2 linked regions of the Homo sapiens genome follow. The protein of the gene in region 1 interacts with the protein of each later gene in a biochemical or structural test. Each region holds a gene or a part of one and is shown in the gene's direction. Other genes may lie near its edges. The genes, in order: UPF3A and UPF2.

What was found.
Region 2: the proteins of UPF3A (region 1) and UPF2 form a complex in vitro, tested with the Homo sapiens proteins (2 studies listed by IntAct, with this or other methods).

Annotation. Positions count from the first base shown.
Region 1 is NC_000013.11:114,282,121-114,298,042, forward strand, and holds part of UPF3A (regulator of nonsense transcripts 3A), read left to right. Parts: coding exon 1-7; intron 8-274; exon of another isoform or gene 275-532; intron 533-716; coding exon 717-823; intron 824-1,973; exon of another isoform or gene 1,974-2,238; intron 2,239-4,138; exon of another isoform or gene 4,139-4,150; coding exon of another isoform or gene 4,151-4,181; coding exon 4,182-4,280; intron 4,281-4,398; coding exon 4,399-4,509; intron 4,510-4,618; coding exon of another isoform or gene 4,619-4,635; exon of another isoform or gene 4,636-5,192; coding exon of another isoform or gene 5,193-5,416; exon of another isoform or gene 5,417-5,666; intron 5,667-9,368; coding exon 9,369-9,424; intron 9,425-9,480; coding exon of another isoform or gene 9,481-9,513; coding exon 9,514-9,672; intron 9,673-9,678; exon of another isoform or gene 9,679-10,464; intron 10,465-10,550; exon of another isoform or gene 10,551-11,601; intron 11,602-13,230; coding exon of another isoform or gene 13,231-13,332; exon of another isoform or gene 13,333-13,988; intron 13,989-15,922. UniProt on the Homo sapiens protein: Involved in nonsense-mediated decay (NMD) of mRNAs containing premature stop codons by associating with the nuclear exon junction complex (EJC) and serving as link between the EJC core and NMD machinery.
Region 2 is NC_000010.11:11,920,810-11,927,809, reverse strand, and holds part of UPF2 (regulator of nonsense transcripts 2), read left to right. Parts: intron 1-6,502; coding exon 6,503-6,512; 3' UTR 6,513-7,000. UniProt on the Homo sapiens protein: Involved in nonsense-mediated decay (NMD) of mRNAs containing premature stop codons by associating with the nuclear exon junction complex (EJC).

The DNA of each region.
Region 1 (15,922 bases):
ACCTGAGGTGAGGCCCGCCCCGAGGGGAGGAAGAGAGGGCGGAACCCAGAGCTCGGCGGCGGTGGCCGTCTCGTTGCCTTACGTTCCTTACCCTGATTTCTCCTATATGGGAGTCGTGTGAGCTTTTTGAATAAATACATTTCAGTAAAACGTGTCCGTTCCGTCAAAGAAAAATACCACCAACAAAGAAACACAGATGTGGTTTACATGAAAAATGCGGATGATTTTCAGACGGCTAACGCTTAGGAAAGCGGGTGCCTTTGAAAGGACCAGCGTTGCCCGCCCGGCGCCTCCCGGGCTTCCCTGCTCGTCCGCGGACGGGGCGCTGCGGGGCCGGGGGGCGCCGGCTCTTCCTGTGGCCTCCACGCTGGTGCCGCAGCCAGTGCGGTTTTAAATACCGGAGAAGGTCCCCAAGTCAGGAGAGTCTCTCGGCGCCACGGGTTCCTCTGGGAGTGCGCCCTGGCCTTGCCTTAGGGTTTCAGCCTCGGAGGACCGGTTCTGGGCAGTGGAGAAGGGACCTGAGTTCTGCCTTGTAAAGTTAACGTTTTGCGTTTGTTTTTGCTAAAGAATATCCAAGTTGTTACAATTAACTGAGATGATTTGGCACAAAAGTTTTATCTAAAGTAGTTTGTTGTGCCCAGAAAAGGAAAAAGAGGCTAAATTAATGGACTATTGTATTTTTCACTGACCATTTTCACTGTTATCTCTTATTTCAGTCTTTATCCTCATCTCTACTCAAGAGCATACATTAATTTTAGGAATCCTGATGACATCCTTCTTTTTAGAGATCGTTTTGATGGATATATCTTCCTTGACAGCAAAGGTTGGATTATTGGTTTTTAAAAATCTATTATAATCTGTAGGTATACTAATGAAGTATTGCTAGAATATTCGTGCTTTTTAAATTATTATTATTTTTTGAGACAGGGTCTTGCTCTGTTGCCCAGGCTGGAGTGCAGCAGCCGCAATCACGGCTCACTGCAGCCTCACACTGCGGCTCAAGCAATCCTCCAGCCTCCTAGGTAGCAGGGACCACAGGCGTGTGCCACCATGATCGGCTGATTTAAAAAAAAAATTGTGTAGAGACGGGGGTCTCACTGTGTTGCCCAGGCTGGTCTTGAACTCCTGGCTTCAAGTGATCCTCCCACCTCAGCCTCCCAAAGTGCTGGGATTACAGGCGTGAGCCACAGCATCCGGTCTATTTGTGCATTTTAATTAAAAAGTTCTCAGACTAAAATAAGTTTATAAATTTTGATTATGTTACTGTAATTATGTGCAGATATTAAAAATTGAAATTATTTAATTTTATTATTTAATCCAAAAAAATTCCAGAAATTCTGTGTAATAGTGACAGCCTATTTATGTATTATCATCAGAGAATGAAGGTTTTCATGAGTGAGTTTGTTGCATGAGAGAACTTGATCTTTTTAGGTTCTAAAGCTAAACTATTTTACCTGATAGGAATTTTCCAAAATGTACACTGACTTCTATCTTCCTAAACAGCATCCTTCATGACTGTACCATTTATGATAATGTCACCAGGAAGTCACTGCTGTTAAACAGCTTTGCCTGCGGAGACAGCAGTCTTCAACTCTACTCTCAATAGTTCCCTTATCAGTACTTCTAGGGTTCTGCTTTCATCTTTTTCCTTCTCTTCTCCTGTCAGGCTGTCTGCTGTTGTGTTCCTGGCTGTCAAGTTTGTATACCTTTCACAGCAAGTTGTTTTCTGCCCTCCCCTCCCCAGCCACCCTCTTCCGACTCCACGTGTTTTGACACTGATGAGTGTTTTCTTTTTCTCCAATGAGGGGTAAGGACTAGAAAGATTGTTAAAAAAATAAGCATTAGCCAAGCTAGTTCCTGTGACTAGAAGCAAATGTGATGCTTGAACTGACCTTTGTGTTCATTGCTCATTTATTCAGTAACTTACTGAGTTTCCCTTTTTCACTTAAAAAATATTGGTGGGCCGGGCACAGTGGCTCACACCTGTAATCCCAGCACTTTAGGAGGCCAAGGCGGGTGGATCACGAGGTCAGGAGTTCGAGACCGGCCTGAGCAACAACGTGAAACCCTGTCTCTACTAAAAATACAAAAATTAGCCAGGCATGGTGGCAGGCGCCTGTAGTCCCAGCTACTCGGAAGACTGAGACAGGAGAATTGCTTGAACCTGGGAGGCGGAGGTTGCAGTGAGCCGAGATCATGCCACTGCATCCCAGCCGGGGCGACGGAGCAAAAAAATATGTATGTGTATGTACGTGTATGTATATGTGTGTGTGTGTGTAAAATATGTGTAACATGGCCAGGTGTGATGGCTCACTCCTGTAATCCCAGCACTTTGGGAGGCCGAGGAATGTAGATCAGTTGAGGTCAGGGGTTCGAGACCAGCCTGGCCAAGATGGTGAAACCCTGTCTCTACTAAAAAAAAAAAAAAATTAGCCAGGCATCATGAGGCATGCCTGTAATCTCAGATACTTGGGAGACTGAGGCATGAGACTCACTTGAACCCGGGAGGCAGAGGTTGCAGTGAGCCAAGATCGTGTTACTACACTGTAGCCTTGGTGACAGAGTGAGACTCTGTCTCAAAAAAAAAAAAAGTCACAAAATTTATACCATACTGTTTTCCACAGTGACTGCGCCATTTTAGGTTCCCACCTGTAGTGAGCAAGGGGCCAGTCGTCCTTGTTTCCGGTTATCTTTGTTGTCGTTGTTTTGTTTTTTAGAGATGGGGTCTCACTATGTTGCCCAGGCTGGTGTCAAACTCCTGAGCTCAAGCGATTCCCCCCACATTGGCCTCCCAAAGTGCTGGGCTACAGGCGTGAGCCGCTGCCCTGCCGTTGTTTTTATGGTCTCTGGCCTAAGCCTGTGCTTTTGATGTCATATGCAACCCATTGCCAAATCCATTGCCATGGAGCTTTTCCCCTGTGTTTTTTTCCAAGTGTTTTATGGTTTCAGGTCTTATATTTAGGTTTGATCCATATCGAGTTACTTTTTGTATATGGTGTTAGGTAAGGGTCCAGCTTCATTCTTCTGGCTGTGGATATCCAGTTTTCCCAGCACCAGTTGTTGAAAAGACTTTCTTTTCCCCATTGAATGGTCTGGGCACCCTTTTCAAAAATCAGTTGACCAAGTATTACAAAGGTTTATTTCTGTGCTCTCTATTTTATTCCCTTGGTGGATGTGTCTGTCTACATGGCAGTACCACACTGATTACTTTCAGCTTTGGAATCAGGGAGTATGTCATCTGCCATTGAATGAGTATCCACTGTGTGCTAGGCCTTGTGGGTGGAGCGGTGACTTGGACATCGTCCCTGCTGGTCCAGTGCCCTGCCGTCCCCCTGAGTCTTGACTTTATTCTGGATAGTGGAGGTTGGCACAAAAATATCTCCCAGTTAAAGGAATTATAATTCAGTCACCTGACTATTACTGACAAGTCAAAAAAAAATGACTCAGTGGGTTTAGTACCAAGGTAGCAGTGTTCCATTTGATGATTCAGCATATAGCAGGTTCTCTTAGTGAACATTTCTCTTTGTGTATTTGTTTTTCCCCCACATAGCAACGAAGTTAGTTTCTAATGACTTCCATTCTCTACTTTTATCAGAAGCAGATTTCACCTGGAATATTCTATAAACCCTTTGAAACCCTCTATTTTAGCCATGGTGTCTTCTAAGCAAAGTAATTTTCTTGAACTTAAATAACAAATTGATAGTTGAATTAACCTTTTAAAATAAAATGTAAAGTGTAGCTAAGAAATCATTATTTAAAGGTATTCCAACGATAAATTATTTGGGATGGGGCTGGGGAGGTCAGGTATATTGAGGTGTAAGTTACATATGGTAAAAGTCACCCTTTTAAAGTGAACAATTTGATGAATTTTGAACAACTTCAGTTATGCAACCACCACAACATGATGGATTGTTTTAGTAAATGTTCTTCTTACCAGGAGTTCATCCTTGTTTAAGTCTGGAGTTTGCCGTGTTAAGGTTGCAGGTGCTTGAAAGTGTAATAAAATTGTAGGTTTTTTAATCTTTTTTTTAATCTCTTACTGGAAGGATGAATTATAGTTTAAATAGTAATAATGCATTGTCGTTGTTACACTTACTCTTTAAGTAAGTTAGGTCATTATTTTCCGAAATGAATGTAGTAGAATTTCAGAATGGCTTCTGGAACATGTTTCCTGTTAAAAGGCCTAGAATATCCTGCAGTGGTAGAGTTTGCTCCATTCCAGAAGATAGCCAAAAAGAAGCTGAGAAAAAAAGATGCCAAGACTGGAAGCATCGAAGATGGTGAGCCCTTTCCAAGTGCTACGTTATGAAGCTGCCAAATTAAGAACACTGAGCAAATGTAATTCTCCCGTAGTTGGGAAAGATTATATTTATTTTCTTCCTACTTTTTAATGTCTAGATCCAGAATATAAGAAGTTTTTAGAAACCTACTGTGTGGAGGAAGAGAAGACCAGTGCCAACCCTGAGACTCTGCTGGGGGAGATGGAGGCGAAGACAAGAGAGCTCATTGGTCTGTTTTGCTCATTTCTTCTCTTTTCTTTATTGAGAGATTTACTCGTAGAGGATATACGTTTTTTCTCTTTTTCTTGACTGTGATAACAAGTTGAAACTTGTTACAGGCTTGACAGAAATGTAGAGTGATTTCCAGTTTTGACAAAAGAATGGCAAGATGGCAGCATGGGAAAATATTTCTGAGCGTTGGTTGATGGAGAGCACGTGATTTTTTTAGTTAAGATCATTTTAAGTTATGATGCTTCCGAATGAGCAGTGCAGAAGACACATGAATGGTCTGTTCCTGAGCGTCAGGGAAGGCATGTTGTGTCACATAGTTGAAGTCAGTGGTCACAGACGGATGCCTCAAGAGCCCATAGGAATGAGATGTTTTGCTTGCGGTGAGGTCATCTTGCTGCTTCAACACAAATGCCAGGCTCCCCGAGCCAGGCCAACTTGTGGATAAGCCCAGCCAGAGCACAGAATCGAGTTTAAATCCAGCCTTCCACCCCATGCCCACAAGTGGTGTACTTTAGAAATAGTTACTTCCCAGTAGCACCAACATACTTCCCAGTAGCACCAACATGAAAATCAGGCAAACTGTTGTTGTTTAGTCCCAGACACACCTGGTAGTGTTTCTCTTCTCTGTGGATCTCCTTTCCTCAAAGCCCTGGTTCTTCACCTCTCATCTCTCCCGCCCAGGCTGTGCCCTGCCCACCCATCAAGATGGATGTACTTTGGGAGGCCAGGGTGGGCGGATCACAAGGTCAGGACTTCGAGATCAGCCTGGCCGACATGGTGAAACCCCATCTCTACTAAAGATACAAAAAATTAGCAGGGCATGGTGGTGCGTGCCTATAGTTCCAGCTACTGAGGAGGCTGAGGCAGGAGAATCGCTTGAACCCAGAAGGCGGAGGTTGCAGTGAGCTGAGATCGCACCACTGCACTCCAGCCTGGTGACAGAGCGAGACTCCATCTCAAAAAACCAATAAAATTGATGTGACATGACAGCCACATTGTTTATCATTTATTTTCCTGTCTGTCTCCCACCACATAAACTCCCTTCTTGTTTTGTCTCCCCAGTGGAACTATATTTTCATCTTCATGGTTGTAGAAAAGTTCAGGAATTTAGTAGATGTTGATTGAATTAATAAAAAAAGATTAATATTACTGAAATAGTCCGTTCACTTTCTTCATTTATCTAGTAATAAAGCTTTTTTTCCCCCCACTCTGTTGCCCAGGCTGGAGTGCGGTGGCACAATCTCGGCTCACTGCAACCTCTGCCTTCCCAGTTCAGGCCATTCTTCTGCCTCAGCCTCCTGAGTAGCTGGGATTACAGGCACCCGCCATCATGCCCAGCTAATTTTTATATTTTTGTGGAGATGGGTTTCACCATGTTGGCCAGGCTGGTCTTGAACTCCTGATCTCAGATGATCCGCCTGCCTCAGCCTCCCAAAGTACTGGGATTACAGGCGTGAGCCACCACACCTAGCCGTAATAAGGCTTTTGATCACTAAAGTAAACAAAATATGCTGAGGCTGCATGCTGCCTGGGCACTGACTCTGGGCCTCAGCATGGGGCCAAGTGGTAAGCAGGTTGCACAAGGCCTCTGCCTACCATCGGGATGACAGGTTGGAAGCAGGAGCAGGAATAGTCCAACCAGGGCACCTCAGTGTGTAATCACTGCCACTGATGTGACAAAGTGGAATATGGGAGGGAAAGAGGTTGGGAGACTCCCTCCAAGATAGTGGTGGAGCTGGAGCTGAGACTGGCTGCGGGAGGGAAAGAGGTCAGGAGATGAGCTGAGCCTGGCCGTGCTGAGCAGTGGAGGAAGGAAGCGCCAGGGGCAGGGCCGGCTGCTGTCGCTTTTCACTGCAGGCGCAGAGTGCAGGCTTGTGGGGTTGGCACACATGGGTGAGGGCAGCGTGGTTGGAGGTTCAGGGCACTGCAAGACATTTAGATTCATTCCAGGGCAACTGGAAGCCACTGGGGGAGTAGCATGGTCTGATTATTTGTCCCCGTCACTTTGGTGGTGTCACATGGGATAGACTGTGGATGCCAAGAGATGAGCGTGTGTTTTGGAGGTGGGCTGGACAGGACCGACAGACGGATAGGGTGTGGGAGGTAAGGGGACAGGAAGAATTAAGACTCCAGTGCTTGGCTTGAACAGATGGGTGGATTGTGGCACCATTATACACAAGGGAACATGAGGGTAGGACAGTATTGGGGGCAAAGTCGAGATTTCACTTAAGAACTTGATAAATTGAAGAAGAGCTAGAAGCAGCAAATTAGACGTTATTACAGGCCTCATCTCCCTGCCCCTCCCATTTCCATCTCACTTTGTTTTAAATGTCCCCTTGCAAAGGATCGGTCACTTTAGGGCTGTTTTGAGACATACCTTTTTGGGGCAGACACGTGGCTCCTGCCGGGGTGGGGAGAGGGGGGCATGTCCTGGCACCTCCCCGAGAGTCTGCTGCACAGCCAATGCTTCACAAAAGTTGGCTGAATGAATGAATGAATGTGGCTTAGAACCCACCATCCCTGATGGGAGCGATTAATTCATTCCAGGACTTGGCTGTAGAGTCTTCCTTGTTTCTGTGATTGCTGTTTCTATGTATGAAAAATTGAAACTTGGCCGGGTGCGGTGGCTCACACCTGTAATCCCAGCATTTTAGGAGGCTGAGGCGGGCAGATCATGAGGTCAAGAGATTGAGACCTTTCTGGCCAACATGGTGAAACCCCGTTTTTACTAAAAATACAAAAATTAGCTGGGCGTGGTAGCATGCGCCTGTAGTCCCAGCTACTTGGGAGGCTGAGGCAGGAGAATCGCTTGAACTCGGCAGGCGGAGGTTACAGTGAGCCAAGACCACGCCACTGCACTCCAGCCTGGCGACAAAGTAAGACTCCATCTCAAAAAAAAAAAAAAAAAAAATTTTAGGCAATTCATGGCAGATTACCTTTTTCTTTTCTAAGCTTTTGGCCTCCAGTGGATTCTTCTGCACAGGTCTGAGAAGCAAGTGTTAAATGGAAATACTAATAAGCTGTTTCTGGCAAGGACTCTGGAGTTGTTGAGTTAGTCTGGTGCATCGGCCTTTAGCATCGGCCTTTAGAGCAGACAGGCCTGGGTTCAGCTCTGAGACTTCTGTTTACTTGTGTTCTGTTGCATGGTTGTGCGTATTCTGTCTGATAAATAACATACTTTTATGATGTGTAGAACACTTTCTTATTCAGGGTCTAACGTACTTTGCCCGTGATCCCTGTGGGTGATAGGGCAGACATTTTATAGGAAGAGGAAGGTGGGCAAGCGGAGTCTGGGGTCAGCCTCCCCACACATCCAGGTGGTCTCGCCCGGCTCCTGGCTGACAAGTTCAGGCTTTCCACAGAGCAGAGCAGAACCCTGGCTGATTTGAGATAATTTGCCCATTACAAAGAGCTGACCATTTACCTGAGCCAGTGTGCTGTACTCACCCTGAGCCAGAGTTCATGGTCAGCCCAGGGACCCCTGGGGGAGTGTTCTCTGTGGCAACTGTGTCTGCCACGAAATGTGGCATTTGTACCTGCATCAGCTCTTCCCTACAACCACTGTGCCTGGGGCAGGGCTCCTGGGACAATCGGCTCTTCCCTACAACCACAGACTGTCCCTGGGGAAGGGCTTCTGGGACAGGTGCCATTTCATCTATGATGTCAGGGTGTCAGGGGTTCTCAGTTCCAAGTGATGGATCCCTGGCCAGGGCTTCTCCTATGATTCCTGATTCATTCCTGGTCCTCAGAATTCCAGAGATGATGTGTCAGTTTTCAGGTACATCCAGGGATTCTTCCCAGCCCTGTTTAGTCTGAGATCTTACAGACCCACAGAGTAGACCCCGTCTTCCCCCTTCCCATTTGTGTCCTTGTGTTGGTGGGATGTGGGGCCTGTCCATGTCAGCGCAAGTCCCTCTGAGGTGGGGCCTGTGGGGCCTCTAGCTTGCCTGGGCACCCACATCCAGGTCAGATCTGAGAGGTCGGGCATGAAAGCGAAGGACCAAGATAGAGTCTGTAGAAATGTTCATTCCCTAGTAGTTGGTGCCTTTTCTGCAATCAGCAGCGCCATATGGAGTCATTTTCTTTTTCTTTTCTTTTTTTTCTTTTTTTTTTTTTTTTGAGGCAGAGTTTCGCTGTTGTTGCCCAGGCTGGAGTGCAGTGGCGCAATCTCGGCTCACTGCAACCTCCTCCTCCCGTGTTCAAGTAGTTTTCCTGCCTCAGCCTCCCGAGTAGCTGGGATTATAGGCGCGTGCCATCACGCCCGGCTAATTTTGTATTTTTTCAGTAGAGACGGGGTTTCCTTAGGTTGGTCAGGCTGGTCTCGAATTCCCAATCTAAGGTGATCTGCCCGCCTTGGCCTCCCAAAGTGCTGAGATTACATGTGTGAGCCACCACGCCCGGCCCATGTGGAGTCATTTTCTAAACTACAATCCAGAGTTGTATGTCTTATCATTGGGATTTTATGGAGTATATATTGTAAGACATTACAAGAATCCATGTTATTTTAAAACTGTTGCTTGGAGAACGGAAAACGAAAAAGTTCTCAGAATATGCGATGTATCAAAATAAATATATGTTATTTAATGATTTAAGGCACCTACAAAAATATCATCTTGGAATATTTTAAGCCTCCCTTAAGAATCAGGAATTAGATGTCTACTATGTATGAAATTGTTGATACTTTCAAATTACTTGACCTGACAGTAATGGAATAAAAACTCCCCTGGAGACAGTGTGTAAATTTAAAAAGTAATGATATGGTTCCCGTATTTATTTTAAAGATTACATTCAAAACAAGTATTTAAAATACATCTTTCTTTAGGAGTTAAATACAATATTACAATTTTTGTGTTTTAGCTAGAAGAACCACACCTCTTTTGGAATATATTAAAAATAGAAAATTAGAAAAGCAGGTAGGTCTGGCCTTTACCTGATGAACACCCTCCCTGCTTCTGCCATTCTCATCCAGGCAGTTTATACACACGCTCTTCCATGTCTTTAGAGAATTCGAGAAGAGAAGCGAGAAGAACGGAGGAGGAGAGAGTTAGAAAAGAAACGTTTGCGGGAAGAGGAAAAAAGAAGAAGAAGAGAAGAAGAAAGATGCAAAAAAAAAGAGACAGATAAACAGAAGAAAATTGCAGAGAAAGAAGTAAGGATTAAGGTAATTCTGAGGAAACATTTCCTTTTTCCAAAAATAGCTCTGCTATAGTAATTACACTTTTTACATATCTTAGTTCTTTAGAATTTTGAAAACATTCTGAATTAATCTAATATTGTGTTGTTATTTTTTTCCATCTTTTCCATCTTTCTTTCCATCCTACAGCAGTGGTTATCACAGTGCGTCCTGAGCCCTGGGAGTCCTCAGGCTGCTGTTGGGTGCCTGTCCTCCTGGGTGTGCAGTGGGGAGCACACCCCACAGGAGCCCCACGCTGGCACACGTTGGGCTGCTGCTGACGCTCTTTTTTTTTTTTTTTTTTTTAAACTTTCCAACTTTCATTTTCGGCTCAAGGCGTACATGTGCAGGTGTGTTACATGTTCATTGTCAGCTCAACGCGTACACGTGCAGGTGTGTTACGTGTTCATTTTCGACTCAAGGCGTACACGTGCAGATGTGTCACATGTTCATTTTCAGCTCAAGGCGTACACGTGCAGGTGTGTTACGTGTTCATTTTCGACTCAAGGCGTACACGTGCAGATGTGTCACATGTTCATTTTCGGCTCAAGGCGTACACGTGCAGGTGTGTTACGTGTTCATTTTCGGCTCAAGGCTTACACGTGCAGGTGTGCCACATGTTCATTTTCGGTTCAAGGCGTACACGTGCAGGTGTGTTACGTGTTCATTTTCGGCTCAAGGCGTACACGTGCAGGTGTGCCACATGTTTATTTTCGGTTCAAGGCGTACACGTGCAGGTGTGTTACGTGTTCATTTTCGGCTCAAGGCGTACACGTGCAGGTGTGTTACGTGTTCATTTTCGGTTCAAGGCGTACACGTGCAGGTGTGTTACGTGTTCATTTTCGGCTCAAGGCGTACACGTGCAGGTGTGTCACATGGGTAAATCAAGTGTCACTGGGGTTTGGTGTGCAGATAATTTTGTTGCCCAGGTAATCAGCACAGTACCTGATGTTTTTCAGTCTTCACCCTCCTCCCATTCTCCACCCTCTACATTTTCCTTTAAAAAAAAGTTTTCCTCCCAGCACTTTGGGAGGCTGAGGCGGGCAGATCACGAGGTCAGGAGTTCGAGATCACCCTGACTAACATGGTGAAACCCTGTCTCTACTAAAAATACAAAAATTAGCCAGGTGTGGTGGCGGACGCCTTAATCCCAGCTACTCAGGAGGCTGAGGCAGGAGAATCGCTTGAACCCAGGGAGCAGAGGTTGCAGTGAGCCGAGATCGCGCCATTGCACTCCAGCCTGGGCGACAGAGCAAGACTCCCTCTCAAAAAAAAAAAAAAAAAAAAAAAATTTCCTGGCCGGGTGGGGTGGCTGACACCTATAATCTCAGCACTTTGGGAGACCGAGGCAGGCGGATTACTTGAGTTCAGGAGTTTGAGACCAGCTTGGCCAATATGGGGAAACCCCATCTCTACTAAAAACACAAAAATGAGCCGGACGTGGTGGCGTGTGCCTGGAATCCCAGCTACTCAGGAGGCTGAGGCAGGAGAATCACTTGAACCCAGGAGGCGGAGGTTGCAGCGAGCCGGGATCGCGCCACTGCACTCCAGCCTGGGCAACAGAGCAAGACTCTGTCTTAAAAAAAAAAAAGTTTCCCTGATTAAAAAATACACATTTGAAAACCACTGGTTTTGCCTTTCTGTGTGAAGGCTGACTCAGAACCGGGTTTTATCATTTCTTTGGCAGTAGCACTAATGAGTTTCTGTATTTCTTGCTGAGTTTTTTCTGTGACTGATACATTCATTTATGAGGGTGGTTTAATACATAGAGGGAATTTTTCTCTGTGTGAAATGTGTTGGCCAGAATTGGGACCAGCCATTATCTCCTCAGTACTAAACCTAGATTTGAACCTAAGGTATCACTCATTACTTATTATTTATTGAATACCTTATATTCAATAATATTGTACAATATGAGGAAAAAAATGAAATGTCAGGACTTGGGGAAAGAAGATAGCTTAGGAAAGGGTGGGGAAGAGATCATTGAACCATAGATTTGTTTCTGATATGGTCAGCAGTCAAAAACAGAAAAGTTGGCTGGGTATGATGGCTCATTCCTATAATCTCAGGACTTTGGGAGACCAGGGCAGGTGGATTGCTCTAGCCCAGGAGGTCAAGACCAGCCTGGGCAACAGAGAGAGACCCTGTTTCTGTTTTTTGTAGAGATGGGGTTCCCACTATATTGCCCAGGCTGGTCTCGTACTCTTGGACTCAAGTGATCTTCCTGCCTCACCCTCCCAAAGTTTGGGGATTACAGGCGTGAGCCACCATGCCTGGCCTGGTTTAGCTTTTAATAAGTATCTGTGCTCAGTATGGGGGTCTTTCACTTCTAAATCATGTGGAAAATTGAAATTCTTTTAATGCCTGAAAAATGGAATCTGTGGAGAAATGCAAAAGAAGGTGTATCAACAGCTTAAAGAAAGACAGATGGCTCATGGCTATTTTGCTATTTTTTTGTTTGGTTTTGGTGGGGGGGGGGTTTGAGACAGGGTCTCAATGTGTCACCCAGGCTGGAGTGTAGTGGCACAGTCACAGCTCACTGCAGCCTCTACCTCCCAGGCTCAAGTGATCCTCCCGCCTCAGCCTCCCATTACAGGGGTGCAACATCATACCTGAATAGCTAATTTAAAAAAAAATTTGTAGAAGTGGGGGTCTCACTATGTTGTCCAGGCTGGTCTTGAACTCCTGGGCTGAAGTGATCCTCCCACTGCTGGGGTTAGAGGCATGAGCCACCGTGCGTAGCACTCATGGCTATTCTTAATAAAGAGAAATATGGTTTGGGAGGCCGAGGCGGGCGTATCACGAGGTCAGGAGATCGAGACCATCCTGGCTAACACAGTGAAACCCCATGTCTACTAAAAATACAAAAAAATAGCTGGGCGTGGTGGCACACGCCTGTAGTCCCAGCTACTCAGGAGGCTGAGGCAGGAGAATCGCTTGAACCTGGGAGGCAGAGGTTGCAGTGAGCTGAGATCACGCCACTGCACTCCAGCCTGGGCGACAGAGCGAGACTCCGTCTCAAAAAGGCTGGACCGCGGTGGCTCACACCTGTAATCCTGGCACTTTGGGAGGCCGAGGTGGGCGGATCATTAGGTCAGGAGATCGAGACCATCCTGGCTAACACGGTGAAACCCTATCTCTACTAAAAATACAAAAAATTAGCTGGGCGTGGTGGCGGGAGCCTGTAGTCCCAGCTACTTGGAAGGCTGAGGCAGGAGAATGGCATGAACCCGGGAGGCGGAGCTTGCAGTGAGCCAAGATTGCGCCACTGCACTCCAGCCTGGGCGACAGAGCAAGACTCCGTCTCAAAAAAAAAAAAAAAAAGAAAAGAAATACGGCACACAGAACAGCTCAGCTGTTTAATGTTCCTCTGAGGATGCTAAGCAGTGAGCTTATGTGTGGCCACATGGGTGAACACACACAGGCGAGGGCTGGGAGGGAGCACAGCTGCCCATGCGCTCCGCTTGGCCTCCGGAAGCCTTGCAGGGCGTGGCAGAGCTGGCCTGCTCCCCAGCTCGTCTCCAGCAGCTCTGGCCTGCTCCCCAGCTCGTCTCCAGCGGCTCTGGCGTGCTCCCCAGCTCGTCTCCAGCGGCTCTGGCGTGCTCCCCAGCTCGTCTCCAGCGGCTCTGGCCTGCTGGTTTCTCATGAATGCACCAGCGGATTCCACCTCAGGACTCCGCACGTTTCCCTCCACAGGGACTTCCCCAGATGTGCCCGTGGCTCCTTCTTGGCATCTGGTCTTAGTTCCCGTCTTGGCTCTGCAGAGAGCCCTCCTGGGCCCTCCTCTTCCTGCGTCTCTGATGCTTTACTCTCCCTTCATGTCTGTTCGTAGCTTTTGATGCTACCTGAGGTTATCTTATTCCTTTGTTTCCTTTTTCATATTTTTGCCACTGTTCACAGCATTCCCCCTTGACCACCGTTGCCTCAGGTGGTGCATCAGGCGCAAGTTCCTTCGAGGCAGGGGCACCTCTTGTCTCATTCACAGCCATTCCCTAGTGCCTAGCACAGGGTCTTAGGCCCTGGTTCCTGCACACAGCTCCTCAGACCTCGGGAATCTGCAGTAATATGAGTGTCTTATATGCCAATGAGAGGACTAGGGGCTGGGGGCCCCAGGCAGCTTCAGGATGGGGACTAGTTGGCCAGAAAGCCAAGGCAGGACTAGAGGGTTGGGACTTTCAGTCCCACCCTAGCCTCCGAGAGGGCAGAGGGCCTAGAGAGAGGTCACCGGTGGCCAGTGACTTAATCAGTCACACCTACATAATGAAACCTTAATAATGCCTAAAGACAGGGCTTCCAGGGGCCAGGCACAGTGGCTCACGCCTGTAATCCCAGCTCTTTGGGGGGCCAAGGCAGGTGGATCCCGAGGTCAGGAGTTTGAGACCAGCCTGGCTAATATGGTGAAACCCCGTCTCTACTAAAAATACAAAAATTAGCCAGGCATGGTGGCGCATGCCTGTAGTCCCAGTTACTCAGGAGGCTGAGGCAGAAGAATCGCTTGAACCCAGGAGGCGAAGGTACAGTGAGCCGAGATCGCGTCACTGCAGTCTAGCTTGGGTGACAGAGCAAGACTCCATCTCAAAAAAAATAAAAAAAATAGACGGGCCTTCCGGGTTGGTGAGCACATCAAGGTGCTGGGAGGGTTACTGCATGGAAGCTCCAAGTACCACTACACCATACCCCATACCCACCTTGTGCATTTTTTCCGTTTGGCTGTTCTGGGTTGTATCCTTTATGATTAGCCAATAATCGAGAAAACAGTGCCTTTCTGAGTTCTGTGAGCCATTTCAGCAACTTACCAAATCTGAGGAGAGGCCATCGGGAACCCCTGAATTTATTGCTGACTGGTCAGAAGTACCGGTGACACACTGGGACTTGGAACTGTCGTCTGAAAGGGGGGCAGTCTTGTGGGACTGAGCCCTTGACCCGTGGGTTCTGGTGCTAACTCCAGGTCGATGATCTCAGAGTTGAGTTGAATGTGGAGCACGCAGCTGGTGTCGGAGGGGTGGTATTGAAAAAGACGTGCAGTGTCAGAAATGTAAGAACAGTTCCTAGGCACACAGAATATTTGTTGAATGGGTGGATGGAGATTTGCACTTCCTATGGTTCACATTTATTACAGACATGTTACTGTTGCAATTTTTATAAAAGATGGGCAGTTACCAGAAAGGAAATGTTTAAGTTCCCAGATTCCACATAGGCAGAATAAGAGGATGTTCACAGCTGACATGGGGCCCACGCTTGATGAGAAGCGGCTTCCAATGCTCCACCTTGCATGATGCGTTGTGTTCCCAAGTGAACACGTGTGATTGAATGCATCTGTGTATGGTCTTGCTATGCTGCAATTATGAGTGAGAACAGAATTCTCAGATGTACACCTTCCATTTCTGTTCTACAAATGATCTGTCTGTGGTGCTTCCGTTTTTTTTTTTTTTCTCCCTTTTCTCAAGTTAGCTGAGGTGCTTTAGTTTCAAAAACTATACAGAGAGCAGGGAGAAAGGCCAGGGGCATACAGGGCAGATGAAATATGTCGTGGCGACTTGTTCATTAATTCTGTTTCAGGAAAGAGAATAATCAGTGTTTTGAAAACTATAAACTATTCTAAAAATCATCAGTAGGAAGCAGCCTTTTAAAAATTTTTTTTTCCTTATTACAAAACTAATACTTGTCTATGTCAGGAAAACTAGACCCTATAGATGAAAGGAAATAAAGTCATTTCAGTTCTGCCATCTAGAAATAATCACTATTGGCCGGGCATGGTGGCTCATGCCTGTAATCCCAGCACTTTGGGAGGCCAACGCTGGGGGATCACAGGTCAGGAGTTCAAGACCAGCCTGGCCAACATGATGAAATCCCATCTCTACTAAAAATACAAAAATTAGCCAGGCACGGTGGCAGGAGCCTGTAATCCCAGCTACTTGAGAGGCTGAGGCAGGAGAATTGCTTGAACCAGGGTGGCAGAGGTTGCAGTTAGCTGAGATCAAGCCACTGCACCCCAGCCTGGGTGACAGAGTGAGACGTCGTCTCAAAAAAAACAACAAACAAAAACTACAAAAGTTAGCCAGGTGTGGTGGCACGCCCCTGTAGTCCTGGCTATTCAGGAGGCTGAGGCAGTAGAGTCGCTTGAACCCAGGAGACGGAGGTTGCAGTGAGCCGAGACTGCACCACTGCACTCCAACCTGGACGACAGAGCGAGACTCCATCTCAAAAAAGGAAATAATCACTATTAATACAGTGCTGC
Region 2 (7,000 bases), on another chromosome or scaffold:
CTCAGATAACTCTAATCAAATTGTAATGTAGAAAACTGGCTTGTCAAGACAGTTTAGAGATCTGTTCTTTAGCATCTGTTGAGTATAATTTAAAAAAAAAATCCAAGTTGGAAATGACCTGTAAACCCATCTAATTAGGCACAATAAGATATTAGGTTATTTTTAATTATCCAAACTTTATTAAAGTCCTTTAATTAAGCCTGTTTTATTGCTGCTAAAATGTGGACACTAGCTAGGTTAACAGGCAATGAAAAATGTTCATTTCCTGCTTTTGCATTTTCTTAGAGTAGCTTTAAATATATGCCACAGTGTTCTTGATAACATCTATTCCCTCCTGTCTCATCATCAGAGACCAAAACTGTTAGAATATTTGTATTTCGGTTGGTAAAAAGTAATGCGGTTTTTGCCAATAAAAGTAATGGGAAAAACTGCAATTACTTTTGCACCAGCATAATATCTTGATGTTTTCCATCATCTTCACCTGTTCATATTGCAGCCTAACGTCTCTGAATAGCACGTTTTTATTAATCCCTAACCCCCTCACAATTCATGTATCGCAAGTATAGTGTCTTAGTAATTTGTGTAGACTCACTATGGAGTTGGATGACATAAGGGGCATCCAGTAGGATTTGCCTCCCTCCGTGTACACTCATCCAGGACTGCACTGTGGAAGATGGAGTACAAGACAGGGTCTTTACCTGCACGGTTGTGGTCCAGTAGGGAAGCCGAGTATGGGTACTTGAAAGATAATTCCACCCTCTTCATTTGTCTGTTTCAAAAACCTTGGGTGAGAGTCTGTTAAGGACCAGGCAGGAGATATGTAAGCATGTGTGTGCTGTCATCGACGTGAGCATGTGTGTGCTGTCATCGACGTGCGTGTGAACAGAGGTAAGCCTTTCTTAACCTGGTTACCGGTGTTAGTCACTTTGCAGAGTTCCTTCACTTTCTATTTTCCCTTCCTCCCTCCAATTCCTCCTTGGAAGAATCGGCTACACTTGCCCCTTCTTCCTTGCTCCCACTTGGGTGGCTTACCCCTGCCAAGTCACAGCTGGCAGTGGGAGGCATTGCCCACCCCAGTGGCTATGCTAGAAAAGAGGTTCATTATTGACTCCTGTCACCTTCTCAGTCCCTAGGTCTAGGCAGCTTCTGCCATCACTGGCATCCCCACCTGCCATCTCTTGGCCTCATCTCAGCAGCACTTTGCATTGTAGGCCCTCCTTGTTCTCCCAACAGACCCTTCCTTGGCATCTGTGATTCTGCTGGCTTCTGGGTTTTCCCTTCCCGCGATCACTGTGGCTCCTGCTGCTGACACTGCCTCCTTTCTGCGCTTCCCTGCCTAGGGATGTCTGTGTTCCTTGGGCTCAGCCTGGGCCCTCTTCTCCTTCTGCACTCTCAAAGGAGGTGTCATCCCTCCCAGTGGCCTGACTTCCATCCAGGTCTCCAGCCCAGATCTCACATTTTCATTTCTGACTTTCCACCCCACTGTGACTCAGAGATGGAAGACTCGTGCCCCTGCCCCAGACTCCTCTTCCCCAGGGTCTCCAGTGCAGGGAGAGGAAGCGTTGTCTGCCCTCTTGTCCACAAAAGAAAAGGAAGTTGTGTTATTGACAGCTCCTCCTCCCTCAATCCCTAAATGTAGTTCATTAGCAAATCCTCTGCATTCTGCTCCCAAATGGCCCTCACTCTTGCCTTTTCTATTCTCTGCCCATAGCCAAGACCATGGGTCAAGCCACCATCACCTCTTGCCTGGATTGCTGTTGCTGCCTCAGCCTCCTCATCAGCCTCTCCGTCTCAACCTTCAACCCTTTCCAATTCATTCTCCCGCTATAGACCCAGTGTTCTTTCTAAAACACAAATTTGATATCTGTGTGTGCCCTTCTGCTTAAAATCATCCAATGGCTCCTCGTGGCTTGTAGGATAAAAAGTCTAAACTCCTCAACTTGGTTCCCAAGGCCCTGTGGTGCAGGTGGACATACATTACTGGCTTCATCTCCTGCTGTTCTTTCTCCTGCTGCAGCCTAGCTGACCTTTAGTTCTGTGTTCTTTTTGCCTCCTCTGTGTGGAACAGTCTCCAGCTGTTCCCCTGGAGAACTCCTGCTCCTTCGGGTCCTGCCTTGGTGTTCCTGAGTCTGACATAGGTCAGTGCGGATCTGCTGCCATGACTTATGGTATTTCTGCAGACCTTGTCCTCCTTAAGTGCCGCTTAGCTTGTCTCTATTCCCCATGAGATTACAGGCGATGAGGGCTGGGACCAAGTCTCATGTTGTTTCCATTCTGTCTCCTTCACAGCTCTTGGTGCCTGGCACCTAGTAGGTGCTCAGTAAATATTTGGTGAATGGACAAAAGAACTTTTCACAGTCTGTGTTCAGTCACTGAATAAACGTTCTCATTCCAGTTCTGCTCCCTAGCTCTTCCCTCTGTTTTTCTTTTTTGTAAGAGTCCTAGCTTTTGAGCTAGCCACTCAACCTGTTTTAAGATCTTTTCTTAAAATAGCACCTTAAAAAAAGAAAACCTAACTTGTCCATCAGTCTTAAGAATAGCACTCTGTAAAGTATCACGAATGGAATTTTTATAGTCAATGCTCCTAAAGTATAGGTGCGATAAACATGGTAGATGAACAAACATGGAAACATGAGATTTTACCCTTTAGAGGACCAGATGTTCTTTGCCTTTTTTAAAATTTACATTTTAAGGCTGGTTGTGATGGCTCATACCTGTATCCCAGCACTTTGGGGGGCCGAGGAAGGCAGATCACCTGAGGTCAGGAGTTCGAGACCAGCCTGACCAACATGGTGAAACCCCGTCTCTACTAAAATTAGAAAAATTAGCCGGTCATGGTGGCGGGCACCTATAATCCCAGCTACTCGGGAGTCTGAGGCAGGAGAATCACTCGAACCTGGGAGGTGAGGTTGCAGTGAGCCAAGATTGCGCCATTGCACTCCAGCCTGGGCAACAAGAGCGAAACTCTATTAAAAAAAATCAGTTATTAATATTAGTAATGTTATACAGCAGATAAAGGGAAATTTATTTGGAAACTGATTATAAAGTAGTTTAGGTCTAGGAGCAGTGGCTCACGCCTGTAATCTCAGCACTTTGGGAGGTCGAGGTGGAAGGATCGCTTGAGCCCAGGAGGCAGAGACTGCCAGATCACACCACTGCACTCCAGGTTGGGCGACAGAGCCAGACCCTGTCTCAAAAAAAAAAGTAGTTTAAAAAAAAGATTTTTTTTTTTGAGACGACATGTTGCTCTGTTACCCAGGCTGGAGTGCAGTGACACAATCTCAGTTCAGTGCACCCTCCACCTCCTGGGTTCAAGTGATTCTTCTGTTAGCCTCCCGAGTGGCTGGGATTACAGGTATGCAGTCCACCACTCTTGACTAATTTTTGTATTTTTAATAGAGACATGGTTTCGCCATGTTGGCCAGGCTGGTCTTGAACTCCTGACCTCAGGTGATCTGCCTGCCTGGACCTCCCAAAGTGCTGGGATTATAGGTGTCAGCCACCACGCCCGGCATAAACTATTTTTCTCCTGTAGCTTTTGATGGACTCCCAGATTTTAATTTGTATTTGTATATTTTCTAACCAGGAGATCCTTGAAATAAGGACATAAATTAAAATTTCAGCCCTTTAACAAATAAGAGGCATTTGCTTACAATGAGTTGAAACGGCAGCAGTGCTGTAAGTAAAACTATTATGTAGGGTTTTCTGTATTGCAGAACAAGGTTGTTTTTCTAATACACTAGTATTGAAAATCTGTGAAACTTAACATTTTTGGCAAGTGTTAATACTTACATGGCTTAGATGGTACTAATTCATATGGGTTATTTCAATGCTTCTCAAACTTTAAAATACGTATTAACTCTCTAGACTCTTACTAAAAAGCAAGTTCTGATTAGTTTCTTTTATTATTATTTTTTAATTATTGTGGAAAGCTTCACGAATTTGTGTGTCATTCTTTTTTGTTGTTTTTTGAGATGGAGTCTTGTTCTGTTGCCCAGGCTGGAGTGCAGTGCCGGGATCTCGGCTCACTGCAACCTCTGCCTCCCGAGTTCAAGCAATTCTTGTGCCTCAGCCTCCCAAGTAGCTGTGATTACAGGCATGTGCCACCACGCCCAGCTAATTTTTTTTTTTTTTTTTTTGAGATGGGGTCTCGCTATATCGGAGTGCAGTGGCGTGATCTCTGCTCACTGCAACCTCCGCCTCCCGGGTTCAAGCAATTCTCTGCCTCAGCCTCCCGAGTAGCTGGGATTACAGGCACCTGCCACCACACCTGGCTAATTTTTGTATTTCTAGTAGAGACGGGGTTTCACCATCTTGGCCAGGCTGGTCTTGAACTCCTGACCTCATGATCCACCCTCCTCGGCCTCCCAAAGTGCTGGGATTACAGGCATGAGCCACCGCGCCCAGCCAAATTTTTGTATTTTTAGTAGAGATGAGGTCTCACCATGTTGGCCAGGCTGGTCTCCAAAACTCCTGACCTCAAGTGATCTGCCTGCGTTAGCCTCCCAAAGTGCTGAGGGTACAGGCGTGAGCCACTGCACCCCACCTGCATGTCATCCTTGCACAGGGCCATGCTAGTCTTCTCTGTATCACTACAATTTTTAGTATATGTGCTGCTGAAGTGAGCACAACAAGCTCTGGTTACTTTTAAACAAGATCTCCAGTGATGTCAAAACTGCTGGTGTGTGGCCTACACTTAGCGGCATAGGAGTATACTATCTGACTTTTAAACCCATCTTTTTAAAAATGATTTTGTTGTTGTTTTATTTTGTTTTTGAGACAGGTTCTTGCTCTGTCACCCAGGCTGGAGTACAGTGGCGTGATCACAGGTCACCGCAGCCTCGACCTCCTGGGCTCAAGCAGTCCTGCCTCAGCCTCTCAGTATCTGGGACTATAGGCACACACCACTACAAATGGCTAATTTTTTTTATTTTTAGTGGAGTCGAGGTCTCACTATGTTGCCCAGGCTGATATTGAACTCTTGTAAACCTATCTTAAGTAGAGTCTGCATTTTTTCATCAGATTTTTTTTTTATATATCTTTATGTAAGGTTAAATTAGTGATAGTTTTGTTATACAATAGAGTCCATTGTAGAATTGCATTTAATCCAAAGTGTATATTGTATTAATAAACAGTTTTTGAGCTGATAGATTTTTGAGTCACTCAGAATGATTGTTTGCTTATAAACCAGTCAAATGACACCTTACACTATAACTAGTGATATAACTATACCTTACTTAGCAAAGATTTTGAACATTTTTTTCCTGTCATTTACTGCATTTATTTAAAGTATTCTAGGTTAGATAGCTGCCTTTTCTTGACTTCAGGAGAGATGCTTGAATCTTCTCTTTCATTCCCTCAGGGAATACTTGTGTTCTTTCCATCAGTTCATTTCTGGAAGAGTTACGGATCTTATCCAGCTGAGGATATACTTTTCCATATTTGCATCTTAACGCTTTGAAAGTTTCTTGCTAAGGTAGCTTGCTCTGTAAGAAACAAACTGTTCATCTGCTTGGGCTGCCATGACAAAATATTACAGCCCTAGTAGCTTAAACGACAGATGTCTGTTGTCTCGCAGCACTGGAGGCCGCCGGCAGGAAACCTGAGGTCAGGGAGTCAGCGGGGCTGGTTCCTTCTGAGGCCTGGAGGAAGACTGCTCCAGGCCTGCCTTCTACTGCTGGGGGTGCCGGCAGTCTTTGGCTTCCATACCTTGTCATACCTCACCCTGGTCTCCGCCTTTGTCTTCACGTGGCCTTTTCCCCCTGTGTGTGTCTGTGTGCAAATTTCCCTTTTTATAGAGATGCAGTCATATGGGATTAGGGCTCCACCCTGCTCCAGTATGGCCTTATCTGAAGTAATTACGTCTACAGCAACCTTGTTTCCAAATACGGTCACATTCTGAGGTCCTGCAGTTCAGTGTTAACATGTGAATTTTGGGGATACACAACTGAACCATAACACAAACTGTGAATTCTTAGCACCTTAAGAATAAGTTGTAGAAGAGAACAGAGCCACTCCTCCAGCCATTGCTCCAATGGCTCTGGTTAAGTTGTAGCTCAGTAGAGAGCATGAATGCTCTCAAAAAAGCACTACAGTTGTCCTCGGTATCCACAGGGGGTTGCTTCCTGGATCCCCTCAGACACCAAAATGCACAGACATTCAAGTCCCTGGTAAAAAATGGTGTAGCATTTATGTATAACATATGCACATCCTCCCGTGTACTTTACATCATCTCTACATTACTTGTAATACCTAATAAAGTGTAGATGCTATGGAGATAGTTGATATACTGTATTGTTTTTAATATTTATGTTATTTTTTATTGTTTGGGTTTTTTTCCCCCGAATATTTTTGGTCCATGGATGTGGAACCCGCAGATGCCAGGGCCACCTGTAACTTGGGGGAGTGACTTGGTGGTGGTGGGTAGCGTTGCAGACGCCATCTTGCTGGACTTTGTCCTGTGGCAGTAAGCTCTCTGATGTGACCCTGTTTGTTCCTTTAGGAGACGTTGATCCAGCAGCACGTGTCATTTCATTAGGTCCTGTATCTGATGTTGTGGTTAGTGGAGTCCTCCAGCAATTGAATGAGAGCAGTGGACACATCTCAGCAGGTCGGTCTAGAGAGTTGCGAATCTAAACCTGGGACAGGCTGGGGCCAGGAGGCAGAAACACCAGCCTCTGCCAACACCGGAACAAGCCGACGCTTCCAGACAAGGCGGAAAAGGCCTTTTGTAATGGAAATCTCGCGAGGGTTAATCTTCTCTTGAGAATGGCAGTCAAGAAATGAGATGGTTCACTTGACTACTGAGCAGTTACACCAAGGAGAGCGTGAAGGAGATGATTGAGCCAGAGAAGAAACGGGTTGTGATGGTAATGGTGTGGGGGAAATGAACTTGAGCTTTAAACTTGATTTGAGTTTCAGTGTCTCTGAATTGAACATCCCACGTTGGAAGAAGATACATTTGGGGGCTCCAGGACTACAGTAGAAAAGTATAGAGCAA